3 separate regions of the Homo sapiens genome follow, and all the other regions are linked to region 3. Evidence: fine-mapped expression QTL. A gene starts in region 3. Each other region holds a variant in brackets. All regions are shown on one strand. Distances are from middle to middle. Region 1 overlaps KCNQ1 (potassium voltage-gated channel subfamily Q member 1). Region 2 overlaps KCNQ1 (potassium voltage-gated channel subfamily Q member 1). Region 3 holds the start of CDKN1C (cyclin dependent kinase inhibitor 1C).

Evidence for each region. PIP is the estimated chance that this variant, and not a neighbour inherited with it, causes the effect.
Region 1: its variant is fine-mapped to the expression of CDKN1C in whole blood (INTERVAL, PIP above 0.99).
Region 2: its variant is fine-mapped to the expression of CDKN1C in tibial nerve (GTEx, PIP above 0.99).

The regions. Positions count from the first base shown.
Region 1 is chr11:2,835,649-2,838,395 of GRCh38, forward strand. All of the region lies in intron 15 of KCNQ1 (potassium voltage-gated channel subfamily Q member 1), which reads left to right. Among named protein-coding and RNA genes, the nearest start is that of KCNQ1-AS1, 25 kb to the right of the region's middle. RefSeq lists enhancers at 1-188, 189-1,055. The variant C/T (reference allele first, on the strand shown) is at 1,417.
Region 2 is chr11:2,730,362-2,733,108 of GRCh38, forward strand. The region is part of intron 11 of KCNQ1 (potassium voltage-gated channel subfamily Q member 1); the gene reads left to right. Among named protein-coding and RNA genes, the nearest start is that of KCNQ1OT1, 32 kb to the left of the region's middle. RefSeq lists an enhancer at 1,387-1,556. The variant G/A (reference allele first, on the strand shown) is at 1,018.
Region 3 is chr11:2,884,200-2,886,946 of GRCh38, forward strand. CDKN1C (cyclin dependent kinase inhibitor 1C) reads right to left here and starts at 1,576. Exons shown (of 4, transcript NM_001122630.2): 1 at 1,435-1,576; 2 at 471-1,267. The coding sequence starts at 1,257. RefSeq lists enhancers at 566-1,401, 1,402-2,237, 2,238-2,747.

The DNA.
Region 1 (2,747 bases), 49 kb before region 3:
GAGGGCCTGAGAGGAAAGTGGAGCAGGAGCCTGCAGCATGCTGGGGCAGGGGTGTCTTTAGAAAGGGTACTGGGAGGGCCCTGGCAAGGGACTTAAGTAATTACTTAAAGGAGGGAAAGGGTGGCCTGGGGCTCACAGAGGAAAAGCCTTCCTCATGGAGGCGGCGGGGCAGCGGGCTCAGCCTGCAGTGTCCAGGAGCGACGGGAAGCCTCGTGGGGCTGTTGGGAGACAGCAAGACCTGGGTCAGCAGAGCACCGTGTGGGGTAAGCAGATGACAGGGCAGTGACAGGGTGATCGGGCCCGGTCAGTGGTCCCAGGGGTCGGGGACAGGTGGGAATCGAAGTCATAGGAGGCGGGGCAAAGGCCACGGGGAAAGGGACAGAGCTGCTCCCAAGGACGCACCACCATGGGGTGCCCCGTGGCGTGGCGGGGGTGGGGGTCAGGACCTTTAGCAGAAGGTAAAGATGAGACCAAGAGGCAGATGGGTGGAAGAGTTGAAAGCAGCCAAGTGTCACCAAGGCATTTCTGAGGGAGAGGGACACGACTAGTGGCTCAAATCTTTAGAAATGAGGGGATGGGTCTGGTAGAGCACCCCAGATTCAAGGCGGGTGGCTTGGGGAAAGCAGGGAGAAGGGTCTGGAAACTGCTGCTGAGCAGGAGCCCCCACACCCACAGAGCAGGTGCAGGGAGGCCCATCTGTCCATCCGTCTGTCTGTGGGGAGGCATGGTGACGTTTCAGGCCGGAGGTAGAAGTTTTCACCCAGGAGGTAGAGGGTGAGGCCGGACTGCACTCCAAGGGGAGGAGGTGGGAGAGCACAGCCTGGCTGCTGCCACCAAGCTCCCCAGAAGAGGGGACCCCTCCCCCCGAACACCAGCACATGTAGGCAGAAAGACTTGGCCTGTGGAGCCCTCAGCCTCCACGCCCACCAGCAGGGACTGGGTGGTGATGTCAGCAATCCCCACAGAAAGGAGGGCTGCACAGCCGTCCCAGGAGCCAGCACTGTCCCCGTGATTCTACGTGCAGCCTCCACAAGTGTGTCGCATGGAAACAAGCAGTGGAGAGCCACATGTGTGTCACATCACGCCTCGCCTCACTCGTGCTAAACCTCGCTGACCAGGCAGAACCAGGCACGAGCTGCGTATCAAAGTTGCTGGAAGGAGAAACATCAGATCCCTAAGCTGGTTACCTGGCAGGCAGGGGCCCTAGAGGGAAATGGGGCAGGTGAAATGGAGATGTGTCTTTGAAATGTCTTTATTTGGCGGGAGAACGTCTTCATAGGGTACTTATACCATGAAAAACCCTGTACACAGACTAATTTTGAAGCAAACATGTGAGGCGTTCACAGAAAGGGTTCAGGAAGACAAGCACCCCAGCCGCAGAGAGCCCGTGGGCTGGGGGCACGGGGCATGGCAGCC[C/T]TCTCCTGGGGATGGGCAGGATGGGGCACGTAGGGCGGAGGAAGAGGCTCACATGGTGTGCGTGTTTGGGAGCACCCTGGGCAGCCTCTCGAGTGTCCAGAGAGAGGACACCGTCTTGAGCCAGCAGGGACAGCCAAGAGCGCCCGGGGAGAGGCCTGGGTGGAGACAGAACACAGCAGGCTGTGGGCGTGGCCAATGTTGAGGGACGGAGGTGGCCAGAGGCCTCTCAGTGGTGCCCAGGGAGCTGGGGACGAGGGGCCTCATCCTTCCCCTGAGCCCCTCCCTTCAGGCCCAGGGAGTGGCCTGGGGCCCAGGAGAGCCCGCTCCGCGCTCACAGCCTCCGTTCCCAGACACGCCCGGGCCTGAGCCCCCAGGCTGCACTGTGCCACAGAACAGACTCCCCGGCCCCTCCCTGCTCGAGAGGTGACCAAGGCCCAGGGTCTCCCAGCGAGCAAGAGGCCATTGAACTGTTGTTGGCTGTGCAGTGCCCTGCCCTCGGGGAGGCGGCCTCTAAGAAGCACACACCACCAGCAGGAACCGGGCAGACAGAGGTGGGGGATGGAAAGCAGGGGAAGTGGCCACAGCCAAACCAGGAGGGGGAAGGGAGGGGGCCTCACCAAGGAGACCCTCACCTGGGGCCTGGAGAATGAGAAGGGTCTGGAGGCTAAGGAGAGGGGTGGATGCTCCAGGAGGCAGGGCCAGCCCATGTGAGGGTCCTGAGGTAGGAACCAGAGGAAACCGGCTCTGGGGCGAGAAGGGCGGCGCCCAGGGGGCCACAGGGGCCGGCGGCGAGGGACCCTCAGCCGAGGCTGGTATCTCGAGAACAGCAGGGATGCCTCAAAGGTTCTCGCCCAGCAAGTGGACATTGTGGTGTGGGAGATCAGCAGGTGCCGGTGCTTTCTCTGTCTGCAGGAAGGAGAGGGGGTCATGGGCCCCAGAGGCCTCTGTCTTAGAGAAAAATGGTGGCAACGTGGGACAGACTGAGGAAGCCAGCCCAGAAACGTCCCGTCCCAAATTCAGGAATATTTAGGGTATACCTGCTGCACGCCAAGGGCAGTTTCAGGAAGGGGACCTACTTCTGAGAAGCAAACACCACCAGTAGGGACCAGGCAGACAGAGGTGGGGATGGAAGGAAGCCAGACTGACCTCACGTGGCTCACAGCCACTGGCAGGGTCGGGGGACAGGTGCCAAACTATCCACATGCCCGTCAGGCACCTGGAGGAGTGTGAAACGGCATGCAGAAAGAAGGAAGCAGGCTTGGGGCTGGGGGCCAGGGACCGGCGCGCCGGGAAGCAGGCTGCAGAGTGAGGCCAGGGATGGGGGCTGGGCC
Region 2 (2,747 bases), 150 kb before region 3:
GTCCGACATGGGCTACATTCAAGGAGCCAGCAGAGCTGGTTCCCACTGGAAGCTCAAAGGGAGGCCCCACCTCCCTTGGCTTGTGGCCTTTCCCCACGGCCCCCTTGTCTCTGCTTCTGTCCTGCGCTCTTCACAACCTCCCTTCCTCCCTCTTTCTCTTATGGGGAGTGCAGGGGTGATCTGGAGGAGCCGGTCAATAGCAGCGTGGTGGGGTCTGGCAGAGACAGACTGCAGGGGGCCTGGGAGGCCCCAGGAGGCAGGTGGACTTTGTCCCTAGGCATCCAGTGCAGAGGTGAGACCTGTATGGCCACAGAGTCTCCCTATCCAGGCCCCATTACCCTGGGGGAGGCGGATTATGGTATGAACTGCTGCAGGTGGTCCAAGAGGGGCTGCCCCTGGGAGACGCAGGGTTCTTCAGTAATGGTGGTTTCGAAGGGCAGAGGAGGGAAGAATGGAGGGATGGGGGACAGACGCTGGAGCCGTTTTGGTGGCAGGCCTCTGTGGCTGTGGCCAGAAGCAGGGCTGGGCACCAGGCCAGATGGACCAGAGGCTGCCCCCAGCTGAACCAACTACAGAAATGAGAGCCCCGGCCCAGCCTCCTCCCAGCCGCCGCTCTCTGGGAGCCCAGCTTTGCTCATAGAAAAGGAAGGCCCTTGTTGCCCTGCATTGGGAGCAAACACTTCCTTTGGCCTCACAGCTCAACCTTGGACCCAAAGGTCCTCAGGGACCTGGGGGAAAGAGAGGGCAGCCAGGCACCTCTGTTCACGGCAGGGGCTGCGTTGCCCAGCCTGGCAGAGGGAGGCAGCCCCTAGGTACAGTCCCCTGTGCCCACTCGAGGGGGTGCTGAATTCCTCAAGGCCTGAGTCAGACCTGGTGCAGCTTCATAAAGCCAAGGGTGGCAGGCGGAATCCAAGGGGCCTCACCGCCCATGCACCCCACTGTTGCATGGAGAGAACAATGCCCAAATGCCCTCGTCCCACAGTCGGCATGCCAGACCCCTCGGGAATTCAGGCCTTG[G/A]TGAGTCTGGCACATTCCGGCTGTGTGTCAGCGGGAGAGGCCTGGGAAAGGGAGCCAGCACTGCAGGCCGCCCACCACACGCCCACTCGGGCACCGGACACAGGGAAGGCGGACACCCAGGGCGGCCATCTCTCGGGACAGGAGGTGCGGCTCCAGGTTCTCACCCAGGAGAGGGCTTTCCTCCCATGTCAGAGTCCCCTTCGCTGCTTGAGGCAAGCCCTCCGGAACAGACCCATCTTTTGGGGGACCCTGTGGTCATGGAGATCAGGTTCCTAGAATCACCCCCAGCAGCGCACACAGGAGGGCCTGAGGCCCAGAGAAAGGCGCCTGAAGCAAGGGAGGGGAGGGCTGGTCCAGAGTCCCTGTCCCCTCTGCCAGCCACCCAGGAGGCTCCTATGGCCCCATCTCCCAGCTCTTCCGGGTGGAAGACAGTGGTGGGTAACTCACTCAGCTAGAGCGTCTGATCACACCACTGCAGCGGCTGCTCACAGCCTTCACCATCAGGACCACAATTCTGAGGGCCCTTTGGATGAAGCCATCTCACAGAGCTGTCTCCTGCAGAGAGGAGAGGAGAGGGAGGCCGCCTTGCCAGCAGGGGACCAGCGAGGTGTGGCCTGCAAGCCGTGGGCTCCTGTGTTCCTTCCTCCCCCTTCAGAGGAATGGGAGGAAACCAGGCTTGAGTTCCTGATTTTTGCCCTTTAGGGTTTTTAAATTGTGGGAGAGCCAGGAGTGCCTGCGTGGTGGCCTCTGTCGACTCCATTTGCTCTGAAGCGGGGCTGCGGCCAGGCAGTGCCTCTCAGCCTTCTGTTTGGTGGGTGAGGACGATGCTTGGTCTTGCCTCAGGAGCATTGCTGGCACCTCTCATGTGCTCCTGGGCCTCTCCCCAACCCTCACCTTGGCATCCCCCAATATCCAAACAATAGTCCACAAAACAAGCTGCCCCGTGGGCACTGCGAAGACCCTCGGGGCCAGAGCCACTCCCTCAGGGTGCTGAGGCCACCAGCTGGGGCCTCCTCTTTCCACACTATTCCTGACGCCTGGGCTGGGCAGGGGACTCCTGGCTTCGTTTCTTCCCTCGCCTTTGCTGGGCCATCTTTCAGACCTTGCCTGGTACCTTCTCTCCCCGTGCCAAGGCCTGGAGGTGATGTGGATGCAGCCGGGCAGTGAGGAGCGCAGGCGAATGTTACAGCAGGCGCGAGCGAAGGGGCCCGAGGCACCGGTGCTTCCGACGGGGCCCGAGGGCCGTCTGACCTTTCCGGCCACGGGGCAGCAGTTGCGTGAGCAGGAACAATCGCCCCAGTGTGCAAGGCACAAGCGGCCTTTTCTTCCTCACCGGGCCGGCGCACACAGCTCCCAGCCTGGCTTCCCTTGAACAAACATATTTATTGTGGCCGCCACCGAGGCCTCGCCTTGCAGCCGGAGCCTGGGGGCCTCTGTCCCACCCACTGGGGCCCAGGGAGGGGACCCCTGCCCTGGCGGTCTCCCCTGCCCCATGGGCCCCAGCCCCATCTTGCCTGAGGCAGGGGTGGCTCTGGTCCCACCCACCCTCTGGAGGCCCAGAAACTCGAGGCTCCTGCTGGGGGCTGGTGACCACCCACAGGCAGCAAGCCAGCCAGGGTCCTGGGAAGAGGGGGTCTGGGACACAGCCACACCTGAGCCCATCCTCCACCTGGAGCCAGCCCCTTACCTTCTGGAGCCTCAGTTTCCCCCTCTGTAAAATAGGAGGCATC
Region 3 (2,747 bases):
GAGAGGGCGCGGGGCGCGGGCCGGCCGGGGTGGGGGCGCCGTCCCCGCCCGCGCCGAGGTCCGCGGCGGGTCAGCTTTGTTTACGTCGCCGCGCAATGTGCTGTGTAAGCATTTCCCCTTGTCCCGCGGCCAAGCCCCCCGGGGCCGCCGCCGCGCTTAACCCCCTCCACGCCGTGCTCACGGCGCCCGGCCGCGCCCGGGGAGGGGCTCCCGCGGCCGGGGGCGAAAACTGCGCTCCCGGGGGGTCGCGGCCGGGATTCAGCCTCCCACCCCGCCCGCGCGAAGCCGCTGGAGGGCACAACAACGGGGCGGGGAGGGGGGTAAGGGCGCAGCCGCGCCCTGAGCGCTGCGGGCCCTTTAATGCCACGGGAGGAGGCGGGAACCCAGCGAGGCCCCCGAGGGCTGGGGGGACCGGCCGGCCGGACAAAGCGGGGCCGGGCCGGGCCGGGGCGGGGCCGTGCGGGGCTCACCGGAGATCAGAGGCCCGGACAGCTTCTTGATCGCCGCGCCGTTGGCGCTGGCGGCCGCGGTGCCGGCCGCGGGACGTCCCGAAATCCCCGAGTGCAGCTGGTCAGCGAGAGGCTCCTGGCCGCGCTGCCCCTGGTTCGCGCCCTGCTCGGCGCTCTCTTGAGGCGCCGCGTCCGGGGCCGGGGCCGGGGCGGGGGCCGGGGCCGGGGCCGGGGCCGGGGCTGGGGCCGGGGCCGCGACTGGAGCCGGGGCCGGAGCCGGAGCCGGAGCCGGGGCCGGGGCCGGGGCCAGGACCGCGACCGCGACCGGAGCCGCGACCGGAGCCGCGACCGGAGCCGGAGCCGGGGCCGGGGCTGGAGCCAGGACCGGGACTGGGGGCGGGGTGGACGCCGGGGCCGGGACCGGGACACTAGGCAGCTGCTCCGGCGCCTCCTCGAGGCCGTCGAGGGACTCAGCGGCCGGCTCGAGGGGCGGGCTGACAGCCACCGCGACCGCGACGGGCCGCGGCGCCAGCAGCAGGCGGCAGCGCCCCACCTGCACCGTCTCGCGGTAGAACGCGGGCACCGAGTCGCTGTCCACTTCGGTCCACTGCAGGCGTCCAGGGCCCCGCAGCGGCATGTCCTGCTGGAAGTCGTAATCCCAGCGGTTCTGGTCCTCGGCGTTCAGCTCGGCCAGGCGGGCCTGCAGCTCGCGGCTCAGCTCCTCGTGGTCCACCGGCCCGAAGAGGCTGCGGCAGGCGCTGGTGCGCACTAGTACTGGGAAGGTCCCACGGGCGACAAGACGCTCCATCGTGGATGTGCTGCGGAGGGACGCGTCGGACATGGCCCGGGGCTGCGCAAACGCGGGCAGCGAGAGAGGAGAGGACAGCGAGAAGAAGGGGAAAGGAGAGGAGGAGAGGGCGGAGGCCGGGCGCAAGGGAGACCCCGCGCCGCCCGACTCTGCGTGTGCGAGGGACGCGGCGGCTACCTGGCTGTCCGGTGGTGGACTCTTCTGCGTCGGGTTCGCCTGTCTCGTCCGGACGGCAGCCGCGCCCCCTCGATGCCTGCTGGCTAGCTCGCTCGCTCAGGCCTGGCCGGCACCCCTCGAGCACAGCGCACTTGGCCTGTGGAACGCCCAGCCCGCCTGCGCCCCCTTTATACGCGCGGGCCCCACCCCCGTGCGCGCGGGCCCGGCCGCGATTAGCATAATGTAGTATTTTCAGTTTCAACAACACCACGGCGATTGGCGGCCGCCCCGCTGCCCCGCCCCGCCGCGGCCCGGCCCCCGCGCACCGCCCATTGGCCGCGCGCACACCCACCGGGGGCGGGGCGGGGCGCGCGGCCGGGGCGCGCGGCTGATTGGCGGCCGCGGGGCGAGCGCGCTGTAGCAGGGGAAGGGGGCGGTGAGCGGGGCGGGGGCGGGAGTTAAAGGGCGCTGCGGGCGGTAACGTGACACCGCGACGCCCGCCCCCTCGCCCCATCCCCCCTGCAACACTCCCCCACCCCCCCGGCTCCCGCCCCCCGCCGGCTCCTTTGTCTGCAGGCGGGGGCCTCAGCCCAGCGCGGCAGGGGCCGGCTCCTGGCGGGTCCGGTGTCCGGCCAGGCCCAACTCGACCCCGGCCCGGTCCGGACCCCGGCGCCCAGCTCCGTCCCGCGCTCGCCCGTGGGCCTCCTGCGCCAGCTGACGAGGCTTGGACCCGCCGCTGCCAGCTCGGCCCTGGCCTGCGCCGGATGGGGTCTTCGGCTGCCCCCGCGCGGCCTGCTGCTGCTGGGCTGGTGTCCCTTCGAGGGCTCCGCGCGCCTGGAGCCCTCACACACCTGCTGGCCCTAAGGCCCTCGAGTCGGGAGGGGGGACAGGGGTCAGCTCCACTCTTTCCCCGAGGGACCATGTGTGGGACACCTTGAGAGACTCCCACCAGCCCCCTGGAGCTGGAGTCTGAAGCCGCTATCTGCGGAGGCCCACCCTGCCCAGTAGATGGAACAGGGGCTGAGCCCATCATGTCACTGTCGGGGGTCCCAGCCCTTCTCAGCCTTGGGCCAGACCACTCCAGCCCCGGGATCTGCCTGTCCAGGCTGGCTGGAAGCTGTTGTACTGGGTAAAAGTGAAAGATCTGCCCGAGGTCATAGGGGAAGGGGCTGTGAAGGACCATGCCCCTCCCCCGCCTGCAGCCCTTCCTGGTACAGACCTCGGTCGTGCGCGCACGCACACACACACACACACACACACGCACGCACACACACGGTGCTTCACCCCAGCCAGGCCAGACCAAAAGAGACCATTATTTCCTGCTGCCTCCCTTT